6 separate regions of the Homo sapiens genome follow, and regions 2, 3, 4, 5 and 6 are each reported to be linked to region 1. The links are microRNA targets in miRTarBase. Many come from high-throughput screens and were not tested one by one. Region 1 holds a microRNA gene; each other region holds the end of a gene's coding sequence.

Evidence for each region. The annotated mature microRNA hsa-miR-3926 reads UGGCCAAAAAGCAGGCAGAGA and lies in region 1 at 1,758-1,778, shown strand. An mRNA with a match to its seed (bases 2 to 7 or 8) in the 3' UTR can be bound and repressed. Matches are read on the target gene's strand: a 7mer-m8 pairs with bases 2 to 8, a 7mer-A1 pairs with bases 2 to 7 and ends in A, and an 8mer does both.
Region 2: the mRNA of SEMA7A is a reported target of hsa-miR-3926. Seed matches in the 3' UTR shown: 7mer-m8 at 1,333-1,339.
Region 3: the mRNA of MOB3A is a reported target of hsa-miR-3926. Seed matches in the 3' UTR shown: 7mer-A1 at 1,646-1,652.
Region 4: the mRNA of SNIP1 is a reported target of hsa-miR-3926. Seed matches in the 3' UTR shown: 7mer-A1 at 2,247-2,253 and 7mer-A1 at 491-497.
Region 5: the mRNA of SOX5 is a reported target of hsa-miR-3926. Seed matches in the 3' UTR shown: 8mer at 1,857-1,864 and 7mer-m8 at 2,887-2,893.
Region 6: the mRNA of FFAR4 is a reported target of hsa-miR-3926. Seed matches in the 3' UTR shown: 7mer-A1 at 2,488-2,494.

What each region holds. Positions count from the first base shown.
Region 1 is chr8:12,725,485-12,728,586 of GRCh38, forward strand. It overlaps MIR3926-2 (microRNA 3926-2), which reads left to right and starts at 1,753; the gene lies at 1,753-1,815. It overlaps LONRF1 (LON peptidase N-terminal domain and ring finger 1), which reads right to left. Exons shown (of 12, transcript NM_152271.5): 11 at 243-395. MIR3926-1 (microRNA 3926-1) reads right to left here and starts at 1,820; the gene lies at 1,748-1,820. RefSeq lists an enhancer at 1,318-1,367.
Region 2 is chr15:74,408,022-74,411,107 of GRCh38, forward strand. SEMA7A (semaphorin 7A (JohnMiltonHagen blood group)) reads right to left here. Exons shown (of 14, transcript NM_003612.5): 14 at 1,268-2,964. The coding sequence ends at 2,603. Among named protein-coding and RNA genes, the nearest start is that of MIR6881, 1.9 kb to the right of the region's middle. RefSeq lists enhancers at 1,219-1,719, 1,363-1,622.
Region 3 is chr19:2,070,799-2,073,900 of GRCh38, reverse strand. MOB3A (MOB kinase activator 3A) reads left to right here. Exons shown (of 5, transcript NM_130807.3): 5 at 477-2,865. The coding sequence ends at 506. Among named protein-coding and RNA genes, the nearest start is that of MKNK2, 21 kb to the right of the region's middle. RefSeq lists enhancers at 2,027-2,076, 2,107-2,156.
Region 4 is chr1:37,535,291-37,538,392 of GRCh38, forward strand. SNIP1 (Smad nuclear interacting protein 1) reads right to left here. Exons shown (of 4, transcript NM_024700.4): 4 at 1-2,722. The coding sequence ends at 2,458. All of the region lies in intron 2 of LOC105378649 (a long non-coding RNA gene), which reads left to right. Among named protein-coding and RNA genes, the nearest start is that of SNIP1, 17 kb to the right of the region's middle.
Region 5 is chr12:23,531,629-23,534,730 of GRCh38, reverse strand. SOX5 (SRY-box transcription factor 5) reads left to right here. Exons shown (of 15, transcript NM_006940.6): 15 at 209-3,102. The coding sequence ends at 512. Among named protein-coding and RNA genes, the nearest start is that of SOX5, 420 kb to the left of the region's middle.
Region 6 is chr10:93,587,194-93,590,295 of GRCh38, reverse strand. FFAR4 (free fatty acid receptor 4) reads right to left here. Exons shown (of 3, transcript NM_001195755.2): 3 at 224-3,076. The coding sequence ends at 2,687. Among named protein-coding and RNA genes, the nearest start is that of RBP4, 12 kb to the left of the region's middle.

The DNA of each region.
Region 1 (3,102 bases):
TGGCACTCTCTCCTACAGGCATCTCAGCTGACACGTATTTCCAGCCTCTATCTGTACGGAATGTAGTGGAGACCACTGCTCTAGAGAACTCATGATTGCAAAGATGAGGTGGGGCTGGTGCGGGGGAGGGGACAGTCAAAGAAAAAGTAGTGCAGAAAGGACAATGAGAAAACAAATGTAGAAGTGTGCAAATTTGGGTTTATAAAAAAGTGACTTTTGGAAGAACAGAAAAGCCACCATACCTGAAGGTTTTCCTCCCTCTCGGGCATTGATCCGAAATGCTGAAGAATTTGGCTTCGAAATCTGTCTCTTAAATTCTGAAACCAGCTGCAGGCTTGAGAGTAAACCAAATCATGAAGCTCTCTGAGATTCTTAATCTCATCTTCATTCTCAACCTAGAAATACAATAGTCAGTAAGACTTCTGTGTCTAATCCCCCGTCCATATGCCATATGCCAACCGACACAAATGGAAAAAGGGATCAGAAGAACAGGGCAATACCTGTTTCAGTGCTGACGTCCCAGAGAGTATTATTCCTATGCTTTAATACACATTTCTGTCTCATATAGGGCTGACCAGACTAAAGAAAGACAACAAGGCCTGACCTATGCCTAACCTTGCTGACTTAGCAGTGCAATATTGCAGAACCCTACAACAGCCCTCAAGTGGGAAGAGTAAGATTGAGAGTGAGTTCTGGTTCAGAGGTCTAATTTGGAATTCCATTTGTCTTTATGGATCAATGGTTTTTGAAAGCAGTGGAACAAAAAAGTGGATGATAGTTGCTACAAAAAAAGAAAAGATAAGTAGTTAGGGTGTAGATGACATGACAGAAAGTAGTAACAGGAGGAGTCCAGGCACAGTTACATCTTTTACTAGGGAACTGGGTCAAAACACAAAAACAAACAAAAAGCTACAACAAATAAGTTAGCATATAAAGCCAGTATGTCAGAGAGTCAATTACACAATGATGAGCTTCTGCTGGCAAGGCCCAAGGCTATGGCTACCTCTGGAACCCCTCAGTGTATTCTTTAGACTACTGGGTCACCAAACTGCAAATGTAAAATTAATTGCATCAGGCTTCCAGCCTGAGATAGAAGAGTAGTCTCAGAGAACACAGGTGGGAAGATCTAAGTTTAACTCATCCATCTTATACTGATTTCTTTAATGCACACTTACATCCCACTTGCTACTTGCCAGGTCGTGCTCTGTCTCATATGCACAAACTCATCTGAAAAAATACCAGGCCTGACTCAGCCTTTCATACTTCAAGGATGACTCATTTAAAAACAACAAAGGGACTCTGAAAACATTTCGAAATATAAAAATAAGACTACAGCACACCAGAGACAAAAAAGCAAACTTTTTACTTTTGAAAGATTTGAAATGAAAACTAAAGTTTAAAGAGCATCTGTTTTTTGCATAACAATGTGAATGTACTTAATGCCACTGTGTGCACTCAAAGATGGTTAAAATGGTAAATTCTATGTATATTTTACCACAATAAAAATAAACTTTTAAAAAAGGTAGAGGAGCCACACAATTGAAGAATTTTGGTCCTGAAATGACTATACATGATTCAGGCCCCTGCTAACATACATTGATAGGAGCAAGAAACAAACTTATGCCTTGTTAAATCTTTTTTTTTTTTTTTTTTAAAGCATCTGCTCTGCACCCTCACAAAATTCAAGAAAACAAATGACAGGCTCTGGTAAACAAGGAATGATAACAATTATAAGCGTCAGTGATGAAAAACGGAGCTGGCCAAAAAGCAGGCAGAGACGCTTTTAAAGTCTCTGCCTGCTTTTTGGCCAGCTCCATTTTAAAAGCAAGCTTTTAAAGTCAAGGAACTTTACTGTGATAATTTTAACAGAACTTAAAATTTCATTAGAAGTCACAGAAAACAGAATTATTATAAGAAGAGGAAAATTTGCCATATAAAACAAATTTGAGAAGGTTTTCCAGAATGGACAAGAAAATCATTATATAGATGAAGACATGATGAGAAAAGATTACTAGACATTCCGAGGACCAAAGAGGACTCGTTTATAAATATCATATCTGTAATACTTTTAGAATGTGATTCTATTGCCTACATGTTTGTAAGTATTAATACATATAGTCATGTAATTTAGCCATATACTCAAGTGATTTTGTCATCAAATCCAATAAGTGAAGACATAAATTTACACAAAACTGAAATATGGTTATTAACTTTACAAAGAAGAACCTTTAGCAAGTGATTCCATTAACCAAGTATGCCTAAGGCACAGATTCTATCAATCAACTCAAAATTTCAACTCACACAATACTTTCGGCCAACTGCACAAGACAAAGTACCCCCATAGCATTTTTATAATAAGATAGGACTGCCAACGTCAGACTAATCAGGTTTATCAACAGAGAGCCAAATGGCATAGTGATAAAGCTCAAAGTCTGAGTCAGACAGTTTGCTTTAATCATTTTTGTTACATTATCTATAGGCTCTCAGGCAAATTAATTAACACCTCTGAATTGTACTTTCCTCATCTACTATTTCATAGAGTTGTGAAAATTCTATGAGTTAATGTTTGTGAAAATACCTAATGCCAATATCCAATAAATGCTGACGAAATGAAGGGCCTAAACAGATCAATGAATAAGAGAAGGGATAAGATCTATGTTTTTATAATGCCTTTCCAAAAGAAATTGCCTTCAATTTGGTATTTGTAGCATCATAAGTCACTTTTCCGGTTCCTAAACTAACTGCAGTAGGTAAACTGGGTATTGCAAACATCAAAAGGGCCACATTAACCCTATTCTAGAAAGACATCACAAAAACCCTACCCTGTTAAGATATCACCAACATGTACACTGGCAGTGCTTTCTATGTCTGCCCCAGGGTCTTCACACAGCATTCAACTCTATTTTATCATTAAGGTTATCTTAGGCACAAGAACAATCTTAATATATAAAACAATTCTTATAAGATTTGATGTGTTTACATTTACATCAAATTTCAATCTACTAATTCCATCGGCTTCAACTACTAATACATTCAATAAAACAGGGCAGAAATGTAAACCTTTCAAAACTTAGATGGGTTGGAAGTTCAACTTATTCAACC
Region 2 (3,086 bases), not on the chromosome of region 1:
CAGAAGCCCAGGTCCAGCCCTGCCTTTTACACAGGAGAGAAATGAGGCTCGGGAAAGGCGAGGGTCTGCCCAGGACCACAAACGCCAAAAATGGTGGCAGCAGCCCCAGGTCTCTGCCCCAGCTGCCCAGGGCTCTTCTGGGTCCCCCAAACTCCCAAAGACCCCTGGTCCCATGTACCTGCTGAGACCTTGGTCCCCCAGGGCATGCCGAGTGTTGGGGGAGAAAAGGATGGGGAGAATCCTCAGGAATGGGCTGGCTATGAGAGTGCAGAGCAAACTGAAGTGGGAGGGAGCACTATGGGTGGGGGCAATTCCAGTCCTGTGGGGTTTGCCAGAGCCAACCAGAAGCTGGGCTCGGACAGAGAAGTAAACTGCCCCAAGTCTGCCATGGACCCCTCCAGCAGTCACTGCTCAGGAAAAACGCCTAGCAGACCCCAAAGGCCTAGGTCCTTGCCTCCAGGGACAGGGGACAGAGAAGGGAACAAGGGGGAGGGGAGGCCTCTGGGCTTCTATCTGGACTTCTATCTGCAGTGCTCCCTACTGTCCCTGCCCTTCATCCCAGGACCACTGCTCTCATCCTGACCTCCACCCGCCACCAGACAGCCTCCTAACTAACTCCCCTGCATCCTTCCACCCCAGCCTCAGAGGCTCCTTCCTGCATAAACTTCTGTGTTCTAAAACCTATTTACTTGATCTTGGAGGGAGTCCTGAGTTTCTACAACTCAAATCCTACCTCATCACTCATAAACCCTCCCCACAGGTCCCTCCCTACTCTCCAACCCTCACCCAGACCCCTACCCTGCCTGGAGCAAATCCCATTCCCACATCTCTTCAGCCGGCACCAGCCTCCTGCACACACACTCAAGGCCACAGCATCCCACAGGGTCGCATTTGATCAGCTTGCCCTCCAGAACTGCCCCTTGAAGGCAGGGAGTCCTGAGGCTGTTTCTAGCATGACCCAGGCCAGGCCTTCCAGGGGGAAGTGGTGGGAGGTGAAGGCTGGGAATGGGGAAAAGGGGTGCACGTGCTATTGGGGCTCTGGGGTCAAGGCTCGAGCAAGCAGCACGCTGCTGAGGAGTCGTGGGTTCAGGTCCCCATTCCTGCCTCTCACTAGCTACAGCCCTGCTGAGCTGGCTCCTGGGCCCTAACCAGGACATGAAAGAATGCATGTGATGCTCACGCAGCCAGGGGGTGGCGAGTAATAAACAGGAGCCCCCACCAACACCCCCTGACCAGGACAGCTTTGCAGGCAAGGAACAGGCGCAGGTAAATAAATAGCTTGTTTATTAGTAATATGTTACATTATTAAAGTGCATTGAGAAGAGGTGCAGGGGCCAAAGCTGGAAGGCCACTGGCCCCAGCCACTGCCCTGGGTGGCCAGACACAGCCGGAGAAGGGCCCAGCTCCCCCCTGAAATGGATGGACAGGGCTGGGGGCAGGGCCGCCTGCCTGGAGAGCTCGGCCCAGGCCATCCCCACCGGAATTTTCACAGTTTAGCCTAAGTTATAACATGTCCTGAGCGAAGGTGGGAGGCTAGGAGCATGGAAGCACAGCCCCTGGGGAAGGGGGCTGAGAGGAAGGGAGGAGGCCCCCCGCCCCCCAACCCTCAACGCCAAGGGCAGAGTCCTGGAACCTCCCCCTGAGGACCCGGCTCGTCCTTCCAAATGAACACGGTGAAACTAGGGCTCAGTTTTCTCCTTCATTCTCCCGTTTCCCTCACCCCACCCCCTCCCATAACCACCCCCAACACTAGGGGCTCCAACAACGTCCCCCTCAGACCGGGCTCCCAGGGCAGAGCCAGCTCATGCCACTCTCCAAGAACCCATGCCCGTCTCCAGACTCTTATCTCATCCCCGGGAGCCTCAGACTGGGATCACCCCCGCTCCCCAACCCATCCCTTCCCAGCCCCTCCCTTTCCCACCCACCCCCCCGCATGTAGTTTTGGTATTTTCATACAGATGCAGTCGGAAGTAGCTATACATGAAATAAGCCTAACATAAAAATAGAGCTTTTTCCGTCCTTCCGTCCGGAAAGCAAACATCCTTCAATAAACATGCAAGGCGGCTGTCCTGTGGGACCCAGGACCAGAGAGGGAGCTGCAGAGGACAGGGCTGGACAGAGGGTAGCCCTGGGTCTTCAGGAACACCAGCCACCCAGCCATGAGAGAGGGAGGGGAAGGAGGCAATGTGGGTACCAAGAGTCCAGAAGGACTCAGGCCTCAGCCCCAGGGTCGAGATGGAGTCCCAGCTCTCCTATCCAAACCCACTCCCCGACCCATGGGCTCTTGGGCTGGGAGCATCGCTGCATTTAGTCAAGTTTGAGGAGTCTGAAAAATATTTTCCAGAAGATAAAGTCTTGGGTCATCGATGCCCCAGCTTCACAGTCGGTGCCCTCATTCTCAGCCCCTCACCATCCGTGCGCCACCTGGGGCCCAGCAGCCGCCTGCGGCTGGACGTCTCCAGGCCTGGCATCCTCCACTGGGTTATTCTGTCCCCTGGAAGAAGTGGCAGGCAAGGAGCTCCCGGGCCAGCCGGCTCTGAGTGTGAGACGTTCTAGTGCCCTGGGCTGCAGAAGCCTGAGGCATGCCCAGCCTCGGGAGGCCCTAGTGGACCAGCAAGCCAAGAGTGAGTGTGGGCAGCACCCCCAGCCAGAGGGAGGCGGCCAGGGCACAGGCATGACCCAGCAGGTGCTCGGCCATGATGCCGTCCTCGGGCAGCAGCTGCCAGTGCTGAGCCTCGCGGAAGTAGGAGCCCTCCTGGGCCTCGCAGAAGTAGTGGCCGTACTGCTGCGCCGTGAGGTTCTCGATGAACAGGATGCAGTTGGGGCTCTGGTGACCAGGTTCGCAGCTCTGCTCCACGTTCTCCTTGTGGCGCCATGAGTAGGTGGCGTGGCGGGATTCCATGGGGCAGCTCAGGTAGTAGCGAGAGTTTGGGGCCAGGGAAACCTTCTGCAGTGGGGCCTTGTCTGGGGAGGCAGTGGGGAAGCAGCCGTGAGGAGGGACAAAGAGCTCCCAGGGGAGGATGTGTCCTCCCCACGGACTGGGATCCCAGGACAAGGCTTCTGAATGAACGTGGGGAACCCAGCCC
Region 3 (3,102 bases), not on the chromosome of region 1:
TGCCACCATGCCAGGCTAATTTCTATATTTTTAGTAGAGACAGGATTTCACCGTGTTATCCAGGCTGGTCTTGAACTCCTGACCTCAGGTGATCTGCCTACCTCTGCCTCCCAAAGTGCTGGGATTACAGGCGTGAGCCACCAAGCCTGGCTGTAAATACAGTTTTATTGGCAGCGAGGTACACTTGTGAGGTTACCATCGTCTGAGGTGGCTTTTGAGGTACAAGACAGAGTTGAGCCATCATGACAGGGACCGTCTGGCCCACAGATCTGAAAATGCTGACTCTCTGGCCTCATGGGGTAGCCTGCTGCCCCTGGTCTCAGGTGTGCCATTGCCTGTGTGGTTTTTGTTGTTTGGGTGTTCAGGGAAGCCCCCAGCTGCCGTTTCTCTGCCTGTGCGTCTCCGTGTGTCTGCTGTTCGCATCACCCCTTTTAGGAGTGGCTGGTGGGAGCTGATGTCTTGCTTGCTCTTTACAGAAAGAAATGACCGCCCGGATGTGCCACTGAGAGCCCCGCGGGTCTCCCGGTGCCCGAACCGCCGCTGGGGCCTCGGAGACTTGGAGGAGGACGCTCTGGAACCATCATCCCGCTTCTCTCCGGCCTGAGCATCTCAGGGAGACCAGGGGCCGAGCCGCTGAGCAGGTGTTGGTCCTCAGGAGCTCCAACCCCGGACGGCAGATGCCTTCCTCAGTCTCGAGCCTCAGTCTCCCGTCTGGGACTAAAACGTGAACTCTGTAATTCTATGTGTTACTAGCAACCGGAAAAGCCCACTGTGTTTTTAAACCACTTCCACTTTCCAGGAGGCTGGATGGCTTCCAGGGTCACTCCTTGCCCTGGGTGGCTCCCAGGCTCCTGGAACTTCTGCCTCCACCTCGCTGGGGAGCCCCCAGGGCTGCTGTGGCCACAGCCCTGCCTGGGCCTGTCTCTCAAGGGCACCCAGCTTGCTCGGCCTCCTACATGTCTCCCGTTGGGGAGGCAAGAGGCTGAGGGGCTTCCGAGCCCCTGAGAGCGGACATCTCCTCCCGCAGGCCTTTACTCCGCACTCCCCACTGGCAGCCGCTGGTGTCTCTTCACACAGAGGCACAACCTGGACCCAGGCAGCCTCTTTCCTCCCTCCCCAATCTCTTCCATTTTTCTACAGATTTTTTTTTTTTTGGTCATACTAGAGACAGGGGTCTCGCTGAACTCCTGGCCTCCAGTGATCCTCCATCCTCGGCCTCCCAAAGTGCTGGAATCACAGGGGTGAGCCACCGCACCCAGCCCTCTCTCTTCCTCAATGCACTCTGCTTCTTCCGTTCTTCCGAAACATTCAGCTGACTGTATCCAGGGCTTCCTGGACTCCTGGGACCCCACGTCCTGCACCCCGGCTTCTGACTCATTTCCTAAGGGCCCCTTTGTGTATCATAAAGGGTTTGATTTTTATAGTCACATTTACAACCATCTTGAGATTTTTATTTTTTTTGAACGGAGTCTCCCACTGTCGCCCAGACTGGAGTCCAGTGGCACAATCTCGGCTCACTGCATCCTCCACCTCCTGGGTTCAAGTGATTCTCCTGCTTCAGCCTCCCAAGTAGCTGGGATTACAGGTGTGCGCCACCACGCCCAGGAAATTATTGTAGTTTTAGTAGAGACAAGATTTCACCATGTTGGCCAGGCTGGTCTCAAACTCCTGACTTCAGGTGATCCGCCTACCTTGGCCTCCAAAAGTGCTGGGATTACAGGCATGAGCTACTGCACCCGGCCTAACCAGGCTGGAGTGCAGTGGTGGGATCTCGGCTCACTGCAAGCTCCGCCTCCCAGATTCACGCCATTCTCCTGCCTCAGCCTCCCCAGCAGCTGGGACTACAGGCACCCACCGTCACACCCGGCTAATTTTTTTGTATTTTAGTAGAGACAGGGTTTCACCGTGTTAGCCAGGATGGTCTTGATCTCCTGACCTTGTGATCCACCAGCCTCAGCCTCCCAAAGTGCTGGGATTACAGGCGTGAGCCACTGTGCCCGGCCAAGAATTTTTTTATCGATAACATAGTGAGCTCTCTGCCTCTTCGGAACGATGTCCACTTTGCTTATGATCAACCCAAGCAGGACTCTTCTCTCCCTGGACGCCTCTCCCCTGGTCTGGAATCTTCCAGTTCTGCCAGAATTGGCCTTTCCCAGATGCTGCAAACTTCCAGTTGAACCCCTTTTTCTGTGTGGCCCCTGGGGCTGCGAGACCAAAATCCATGAGTTCTGTGTACCCTAGACCTTTGGAAGGTGAGAGCAGGGCCCTGAGAAAAGGCAGCCACCTCCTCTCCCTGGCTGAACCCCTGCCACCCTACTCCTCACCAGAATTGTCAGTGGCCTTTCACCACAGTGGTCCTTCCTGCCTGAGCCCTGCACTGTCCCAGACCACACAGAAGTCTGGTCACCTCTGGGCGCCTGGGATGGTCACCGAAGAGAAGCACGCTGTCCCCGTCTCTCCTGGCTTCTGCCAGAAAATCGAACAAGTGCAATTAACACACTGTTACTGCCGAAGCCTGAAACTCCCAGGACTTGTCCTTGATCCTTCCAGAAACCACCAGGTCCGGCACTTGGAGCCCCCCGGAGAGGGACCTCCCAGCCGAGCCCTCAAAGAACTCCATGAAATCAGGAACTGCTTGATGAAATGTATCTCCTTGTACCTGGAAGATGAAGCCCAAACACCCACACCTCTGTCTCCCCCAGGGCTCGGGATGTCTCCAGCAGCCCGGCCACGCAGCTTCCCAGGTGGGCTCGGGGAGGTGGGAGCAGGGACCATCTCTGTCCCCTCCACCCTCACTCCATCCACCTCGGAGACCACCCTCCCCCAGCCAGATACGGAATAAAACTACAGACGCAGACGTCGGAATAAATGGTGTCGTTTTCCTGCCAGTGTTAACAGGGTGCCCTGTCCTAGGGGTGAGCCTCAGGCTTTGGGGCTGAGAAAATCTTTTTTATTTTTCTTTCTTTTTTTTTTTTTTTAGACAGCTACTCAGCTTTTCTTTCTTTCTTTCTTTCTTTCTTTCTTTTTTTTTTTTTTTTAAATCCCAGCTACTTGGGAGGCTGAGGCAGGAGAATTGCCTGAACCCTGGCGGCAGAGGTTGCA
Region 4 (3,102 bases), not on the chromosome of region 1:
CTGAGGCAGGAGAATCGCTTGAAACTGGGAGGCGGAGGTTGCAGTGAGCCAAGATGGTGCCACTGCACTCCAGCCTGGGCGACAGAGTGAGACGCCATCTCAAAACAAACAAACCAACAAAAAAACCCACCTTCTCAGATATGTGGCATAAAGAATTTCTTAATCCAGGACGTTATTCCTCTACTAAAATAAAAACTGACTAAACAATTAGGACTTCTTACTGAAAAATGTAGGCAAAGTGGTCATCTATCACAGTGCCCACCAGGATGAAGTTTGTAGCAAAACTCAAGGCTACCACAAAGTAGTGCTACTGCAGCACAGACTGAACAAGGAGATCCTAGAGTAAGATACCAGATTAGTGCTTAAACCCTCAAGAGAAAACCGTCAGTCTGGATCAAGAGAAAAGTTCATCCAAACAAACCTACTTTTCAGACAAGCACATATATATGATCTATGGCACATACCAAAATGAAGAAAATAGCAGTTACAGTGGCCAATGTAGAACACATTCTTCAACTTACCTTTTTTTTTTTTTTCTGAGACAGAGTCTCGCTGTCACCCAGGCTGGAGTGCAGTGGCACAATCTCAGCTCGCTGCAACCTCCACCTCCCGGGTTCAAGCGATTCTCCTGCCTCAGCCTCCCGAGTAGCTGGGATTAAAACAGGCATGTGCCACCACGCCCAGCTAATTTTTGTATTTTTAGTAGAGATGGGGTTTCACCATGTTGGCCAGGTTGGTCTTGAACTCCTGACCTCAGATGATCTGCCCACCTCAGCCTCCGAAAGTGTTGGGATTACAGGCATGAGCCACTGTGCCCATGCCCGGCCCAACTTACGTTTCATCTAATGACCTTATTAAGTGTTCACTTTTCAAAGGATCTTTTAACTTCTTCTGAATGAACATTAGTCAGCTGCCCCTCCCACTAGCCAATCTTTAGCCCTGAGCACACATGGGTATAAAAACAATGGAAAACAATCAAATTTAATAGTATCCTAAGTCTCAACCCAAGAGGAACAATTAGTAGTAACACTGATTGAGCTGCTTCACCACCTTTCCCCACAACCCACCTCCATGTCACCATCTGCTATTCCACTGACTTGGAGGCCAACGATATAACCTGCCCCACAACACTCTAAAACAGCTACCTACTTTTATCTCAAAAGTACTGACAGAAGGCTCCATTAGCAGCAAACAGACCTATGAACACAAGGTCCTCTACGCTAGGAAAGCATTACTCTTTGAAATGGGGCTATATTTACAAATTTTATTTTTTTATCCCAAAAATACATATAAATGAAAACCTGCTCTTCAAATGCAGGGAGGCCTTTGCCTAACATTGTCATATGAAAATCAGTATCAGCTCTTTAACACACAATTTACATATATACATACATACACACTATATGTAAGCAGCAAATACTTTGCTACTTACACATATTCCTCTGGTGGAAAACTAGGACACTGGGAAATTCCCCTGCTTTCCAACCTTGGGAAGGTAAATACAACCTCTCTCAACAACTTTTTAAAGGATGAAATGTGTAGAAACATGTAAACAACACAACCTGCTTTAGATCTATACATGTTATTAGAATAAAGAAAGAACGCTGTCACATCAGTGACAGTTTATTTCTCAAAGAAAAAAAGAGATAACATTTGAATAAAAATGCAAAACTGAAGTACAGTTAATATGATCAAAATTGTTGTGTACATGCTCCATGGAGAAATCAGGAATTCTTTCACAAAGAACAGATCCACAGCCAATTTCAGTCACTTGTGATGCTGAATCAGCACCCACTGGTAGCAACCAGGATCCTTCTGTACAGTCACGGGCTTGAGCAGGTGCCATAAAGCATCTGTTTAAGTTAAACAGTCAATAATGTTTACTGACTGCAGTACATTCCCACCCCCCAAAAAAATAAGTGCAAAATCAACTTCTAAGCTCAAGAGCTCAAACAAGTCAAAGCTTTGGTATATACTGGAGGTTGTTTTGGTGATAACCAAAGCCTAGTAAGATTCTCTGCTCAGGGGTTCGCCCCAAAAGAAAAACACCTGGTCCACAAAGCTTAACACCTATATAAATAAAGTAACTGTACAAAGAGAACAAGCCATGATTTCCCCTTAACCAAGGGTTTATAGTTTCCTAGGCAGCAGTTCTGAAAGCACCAACTAAAACCACAACACTTCTACTAAAACACGGTGTGTTGTAATTGGTGAGACTGTTCTGAAAACAAATGCCTGCAGGCATGTGGCCAAGGTGCCACAGAAAAAGTTTAACAAACATTAGTCAGTGTATTCAAATGGTAACACAATCTGGTCAGCAACAGAGGAAAGACTTAAGGCAGTAAGAGGCATTACAGAGAGCACCATAGTGCTGGACCCACCACCATAGTGCTCTCTGAGTCAATCAAAGACTTCCAAGAAGGAAACCGTGTATCAATAGTTTGGGTTCTTAGTTTGCTAGCTGTCAGACACTTCTTCCTCCTCCTCCTCATCCTCGTCATCTTTCCTGTCTATTTCAGAAGTGTCCGACGACTCATGGAGCAAGACGTATTCTCTGCTACTGAATCCAAATTTGAGTACATCCTTTTCTTTTAGTTCATAGTATCTCTGTGGCTCAATACGTTTGTTGTTTAAGAAGGTTCCATTGCCTGAGCCAAGGTCAATGATGTAGGGCTTCACTCTTCGGCCAACTGTGCCATCAGCACGGGTATATTCCACAAGCCTAGCAGAAAAAAAGGAGAAACCTGTGAGCAAACTTCTGCCTCAGATCATCCAGCTTCTCTAAAGCTCTTTGCTAAGATAGCCTAGATGACGTAAATAACCTGGCTTGAGCACAATTCAAGTTAAAATTCTAGGGAATCAAAGAAATCAAGGGGAAAGCATGGCCCTGGGAAGGAAAATTGGAAGTTTAAATATACTTAGAAAAGGTGAGAATGGACCGGGCGCGGTGGCTCACGCCTGTAATCCCAGCACTTTGGGAGGCCGAGACGGGCGGATCACGAGGTCAGGAGATGGAGACCATCCTGGCTAACATGGTGAAACCCCGTCTCTACTAAAAATACAAAAAAATTAGGCAGGTATGGTGGCGGGCGCCTGTGGAGC
Region 5 (3,102 bases), not on the chromosome of region 1:
TCATCTCAAAAAAAAAAAAAAAAAAAGAAAAGAAAAGAAAAACAAGGTATTAAAGTTCAAGTAGGATGGAGTTTGAAAAATGTTAGGCAATTAGATAAAATTAGTACCTTAGAATTGGACATTGCTGAGCAAATTAATTATGTAGTAAAGTCCACATCTAACTATTCACTTACCCACGATGTCTTTTTGGAAATTCCTTTCTTGACAGGCAACAAGCACAGATCCCCATTGCCACTGCTGGTGTTGTGTACCCTGGAGCCATCGCCATGGCTGGGATGCCCTCCCCTCACCTGCCCTCGGAGCACTCAAGCGTGTCTAGCAGCCCAGAGCCTGGGATGCCTGTTATCCAGAGCACTTACGGTGTGAAAGGAGAGGAGCCACATATCAAAGAAGAGATACAGGCCGAGGACATCAATGGAGAAATTTATGATGAGTACGACGAGGAAGAGGATGATCCAGATGTAGATTATGGGAGTGACAGTGAAAACCATATTGCAGGACAAGCCAACTGATAAGGGTCAAAAGATTGTTGTGACCTTAGGACTTAAAGAAGCCCTAACTGGTTCATCCTTACCAGTGGCCAAGCACATTAACTTTCTCATACACTGACTGTTACTTTAACTGTTAGTCTTAAATAGTTGGGACATCAGCTGACTAATAGACCTCAGCCTCAAAAGGCTTGGAAAGAAAAAACAAATACAACAAGCAAACAACAATATCAACAACAAGAGATTGAAATAAGCTATGGGTAAAATAATGCCAGTAATTCAGCTGCTACATCCAAGCACTGAAGTCTTACCCGTCAACTTTTTTTTTTTTTTAAATAAACTTTATGGCTGTTTGTTCTACAATGTTCTAGAAATTCTCACTCAGGTACACAGTGCCAACAAGTGGCTTGTGAATGTGTTTTGTTGTTTTGTGCTACAATTTTTAAAAAGAAAAAAGTTTTGTTTTGTTTTTTGGGGTTTCTGGGTTTTTTCCTTTTCTTTTTCTTTCCTTTCATTTTTTTTCTTTGTAATGCACCTGACAGAAAAAAAAGAAAAATGAATTTCTCTTTACTTCTCTCCACCTTCTCCATCTCTCTACTTTAAAGATGGAAGTCTGTGCATGAGGGGAAAGAGGGAAAAAGAGCCTGTTTTTAACTTCCTTGCTATCCACCACAAAATAAGCAATTATTTTCTTTAGAGGACTTTATCTATTGCACACCACACTACATCTTTGAGCAAGTGCCAAATTTGTACTGAAGTGTTGACCAAGTTCATTTTTTCTCTTTACTTTTTCCTTTTCCTTCTTAAGTTAGGACAGTGTTAAATCTTAGACAATCCCTTGAAAAACCTGAAATACCAGCAGCTGGTGAGATTTGACTTTTTTTTTTAATGGAAACTGTAGGTGCTGTTCTCAGGTGAAAAGAGAGAGAGAGAGAGAGACATAAGAAATTTAGAGAAAAATATTTTCTGATCTTGGATTTTTGTGTGTATGTATGTATGTGATTATGGTACTAATAATAGGAATAACGTTGGACCATTGTGAGTTAAACCCACATCTGGGGATGAAATCCCACATCCTCCCAAGTGACTGGTCTAGAAATAATCTTGACCTTGACTTTGCACTTCAAATGACAACTTAACCAAGTATAGGGCTCAGAAATTATATTTTTAAATGTCTGATTATTATTGGATGGATCAGGTGGCCCTGTGTAATAGAGGTGTGCATGTATAACATGGAAGCTACTAGCAAACTGCTCCCAGATGTCCTTTCTCCCTGGTCAGTTGGTTCCATTAACGTTTGCTACTTAGTGATTTTTGTTTTTCCTGTTGATATTTTGAGCAAAACAATCATTGTTTTCATTGAATATATTTGGCCATTTTTTCAGACAAATAGAATTAGCTTATTTCTTCAACATTCCATCCTTTCCCGATCAGGAAATGAAACTGATGATTTTATAAGGTATTTTTCACCCCTCCATGAAGTGAGGTGGAGGCCTTTAGCATTTCAGAAGTGTGGGCCATATGTAGTTCATGCCATAAAAAGTAGGATTTAATTAAAAGTCATTGCAGCCCAATAAAATGGAGCCTGGCTGCACCCAGGGATCCTTGCCACTGCTCTTCCCTTGCTGTCAGATTAATCCACTGAAGTCCAACTTTGGTTCAAGCAGAGTATTTGCAAAGAGCAACAACTGAATGTGATGGGACTGCTTATGTAGATTTTGCCAGCCAAATGCCAAGGCAGTTGTAGGGCCTGTACAAATAAATGCAAAATCATTTCAAGTCAATTGCCATTATTTGTATTGAAGTATCAGATAGATAGTAAATACTGCAACTAGTAGCTTGATGTGCTATAGTTTTCACTCCAGTCATCATTTTCCTATCTCACCCCCCGAAACACCACCCTAAAGTTGGATTTTTACATATAAATAAAAAAAGAATCCCTTTTATTTTTCTCTCTCTCAGAAGACTTGCTCTGGGGTTTTGCTTGGAGGAGCTGATCATATCCTGCATGTCAGAGATTTCATTTTGTTTGTTTTTCTGTTTGTTTGTTTTTGATGACTTTATTTACATTTGAACTGCCTCTTTTTGCTAGTGTTGTAATGATGATGATGATAAAATAATAATAATAATAGTAATAATAATAATAATGGTCAGCTGTTCCCAGATTAGTAAGTTATGTATAATTTATTTTATTTCTCCCTTTCTATTTTATTCTGCTCTGATTTGGAAGTGCAGCCAATAAGCTGTTAGATATTTAAAACAAATTTCCATCTCCAACTCATATATGTATGTATATGTATATATATATATACATATATATACACACATATACACACACACACACACATTTACCCACAATTTTACTTCTCTTTCCGTAAGTTTTCTCTTTTTTAAGAATTTTGGCCCCAACAATATCAGTTCTGATGTTTAAAACAAAGGAGTGAATTAATAGGAGGGTCGTGTTCAATCTTAATTAACTTATGCTCTCATCACTCATTTTAGTTATTTAATTGCCACAGTCATCTAGAGCCAATTTTTTTTTGTTTTTGTTTGTTTTGTTTTTAAGCACTCTGGATAAGGAAAAAATAGACACTTGTTTTTATATCATTTTTAT
Region 6 (3,102 bases), not on the chromosome of region 1:
GCCTGCCTATAAAATACGCTGTGGTCCACCACTTTTCCCTTTTCAGATGCCTCTGTCTCACGAGAGAGAGAGCTGCTCTCCTCTCTCCTTTCTTCTGCCTATTAAACATTCTGTTCCTTAACCCACCCACATATGTCCGTGTCCTTAATCCTCTTGGCGCAAGATGACAAACCCCGGTTATTTACCCCAGACAGCAATGCCGCTTCAATAAGATAGCCACACATCACTTCCAAAAACAGGTTTAATTGATCAAATCTATTAACTAAAGTGAGCAAAACATCTCTGTTCGTTTGTCTTCGAGCTTGTGATATCCATGAATCTGACTTCAGAAGCAAGCTGCTCCAGAAACTGCATAAGCAGTCACTACTGCTGGTGCTGATTTCCTCAGCAACAAAGATTTGTTGAACACCTACTATACACCAGGCCCCGTGCTGCTGTGCATTCCAGCCACTGGCCCAGCCTCCAAGTGGTGGAGTGACCCTGGGTTCGGTCTTTGGCTCTGGTTTCTCTCTATCTCTCCAAGGGATGTATTATAAAACCATAGGTCTATAAACACCATTTATATCTCCAAACAATGTGCATCTCCAGGCCCAAGCTCCACATCTCTGCATCCAACTGCCTATTCAATTTGGAAGTCTCACTGAGATTTCAAACTGATGAGCTCCAAATGAAACTCTTGGCTCCCCCCCCCCTAATCTTTGCCCAGGCCCCCCCATTTTTGTTGCCTGCTTCACCATCCAACCAATGACAGGCTAAAAAATCAGAGTATTCCCCTTGAGTTCTCCCTTTCCCTCACATTCTATCAATTCCATCCTTCCCATCAATAAATCATCTTTGTTTTACCTTCCCAAGGTATATTTACAAGTCATTTCTCACAATCCCTCCCTAATGCCACTCACCTCCAAGGTCCCATCCCCATGTCACACTTCAGCAGCTGCCCAACTGGTCTCCATTTTCACTCATGCTCCTCAGAGTCTATTCCCTGCCCAGCAGCCAGGGTAATCTTTGCACACATTCATCAGGTCACGTCAGCCTCCAGTTGCCAACCTCCAGGGGCTTGGAGAACAGAATAAACTCCTAGGCCCTATGTGATCTAACCCTGCAATTTCTCTGGCCTCAACTGACAGGCCCCAGCCGGGTACCCCTCATCTCAGCATTAAAGGCAGTGCCTAGTGCAGAGGAGGCTCCATCAATAGTCGGCTTACGCCACTCTCCCTTCAAGCGTGTCAGCCTCCTTGCACTAACATCTCTTCTGTGTCCCTTCCCCCATTCACACAGGTGGCCCTTTCTTGTCGCTTACCTTTTGATCCAATTTGTCACTCCTCAGAAAGGTCTCCTTAGGCCCCTCCCCATCTGATCTAAATTCCCATCACTACCATAGCCCCCGTCCCATTTTCTTCACAGTGCTTATTCGCTCTGTGATGCTATACTATTTATTGACTTGTAGCCAGGCGTGGCGGCTCACGCCTGTAATCCCAGCTACTTGGGAGGCTGAGGCGGGAGGATTGCTTGAGCCAAGGCATTTGAGGCTTCAGGGAGCCGTGATTGTGCCGTTGCACTCCAGCCTGGGCATTGGAGCAAGACCCTCATCTCAAATATATAGGTATCTGTATATAGATATAGTTTATTGACTTTTATTTAGTTTTTCTGCCCCTGACTCGAAGGTAAGTTCCCTGAGAGAGGGCCATGGCTGTCTGGTTCACCACTGTATTCCTAGCACAAAGGACACTGTCTGCCATGGCTGGTGCTTAAGAGGCATCTCTGCTGGATGCGTCAGGAGTAAACCACTCCTGAACTCACTCTCAAACATTTCAGAGCCATCCTACTTTCTCTCTCATTTCATGATGCCGATTCTCTTAAAAGGGTCCATAGCATTTTTATAAATGAAAAAAAAAAAAAAGTAAGTCATCTTTAACTGTTCCTTAGAAATTCTTCAATTGCTCTTGACATCAACGAATGATCCTAAACCCTTGCGAGTCCAAGGTAGGGCACAGGGTGGCTGTGACCCTTCAGAGGAGAAATCTGCGTCCTGAATCGGTTCTAAGACTCACTTCAGAAACCACTATGGTGTGGCTTTATATGTAGGAGATGTGATTGCTGAACAGTCATAAATAAATATTTATTAAATTTGATCATATTACAAACACACTAAAAAAGTTCACATTTAAAAGGAACCCATAACAAATCTTTTTTTTTTTTTTTTTAAGATGGAGTTTCACTCTTGTTGCCCTGGTTGGAGTGCAATGGCACGATCTCGGCTCACTGCAACCTCTGCCTCCCAGGTTCAAGAGATTCTCCTGGTTCAGCCTCCCAAGTAGCTAGGATTACAGGTGCCCACCACCACTCCCAGCTAATTTTTTTTTTTATTTTTAGTAGAGACGGGGGTCTCACCATGTTGGTCAGGTTGGTCTCGAACTCCTGACCTCAGGTGATCCACCCACCTCAGCCTCCCAAACTGCTGGGATTACAGGCATGAACCACTGCACCTGGCCAACAAATCCTTTTATAAAGGGAAAATATTATGAAACTTGGTGATCACCCCTTAATTTACCGACGCTGTGGATGTCTATTTGCATAGGTTCATTTTCTTAAAGCAGGGTGCACTGATGGAGGGTACTGGAAATGAACTCTGTTTAAAAGCATGCCACAGCTCGCCAGGTGTGAGAAACTCGGCTATAAAGAAAAATTAGCCAGAAATAATCGACAAGTCATTTCTTTTGACAGATGTGTCTGTTAAAATGGCTCCCTTTTCTGGGAACCAGAAGCAGCAAAAAATTTTCTTCCACTCATTCCTGCACAGTGTCATGTTGTAGAGGATGGGGTTTAGGGCTGAATTAGCAAATGTGAAGGCCACCACCCAGAAGAAGAGGGACGGCCAGATGACCAGGTCTTGCTTGAAGTTCTGGATCAGGATGAGGAGGATGGTGATGATGATGGGGCTCCACATGATGAAGAAGGAGACCATGAGGAGGAAGAGGGTGCGGAAGAGCCGGAAGTCCTGCTGGGACACGCGGATCTGGTGGCTCTCCGAGTAGGCCAGGCTTACCGTGAGCCTCTTCCTTGATGCCTTTGTGATCTGTGGAAAACCAAAACAGGACTGGA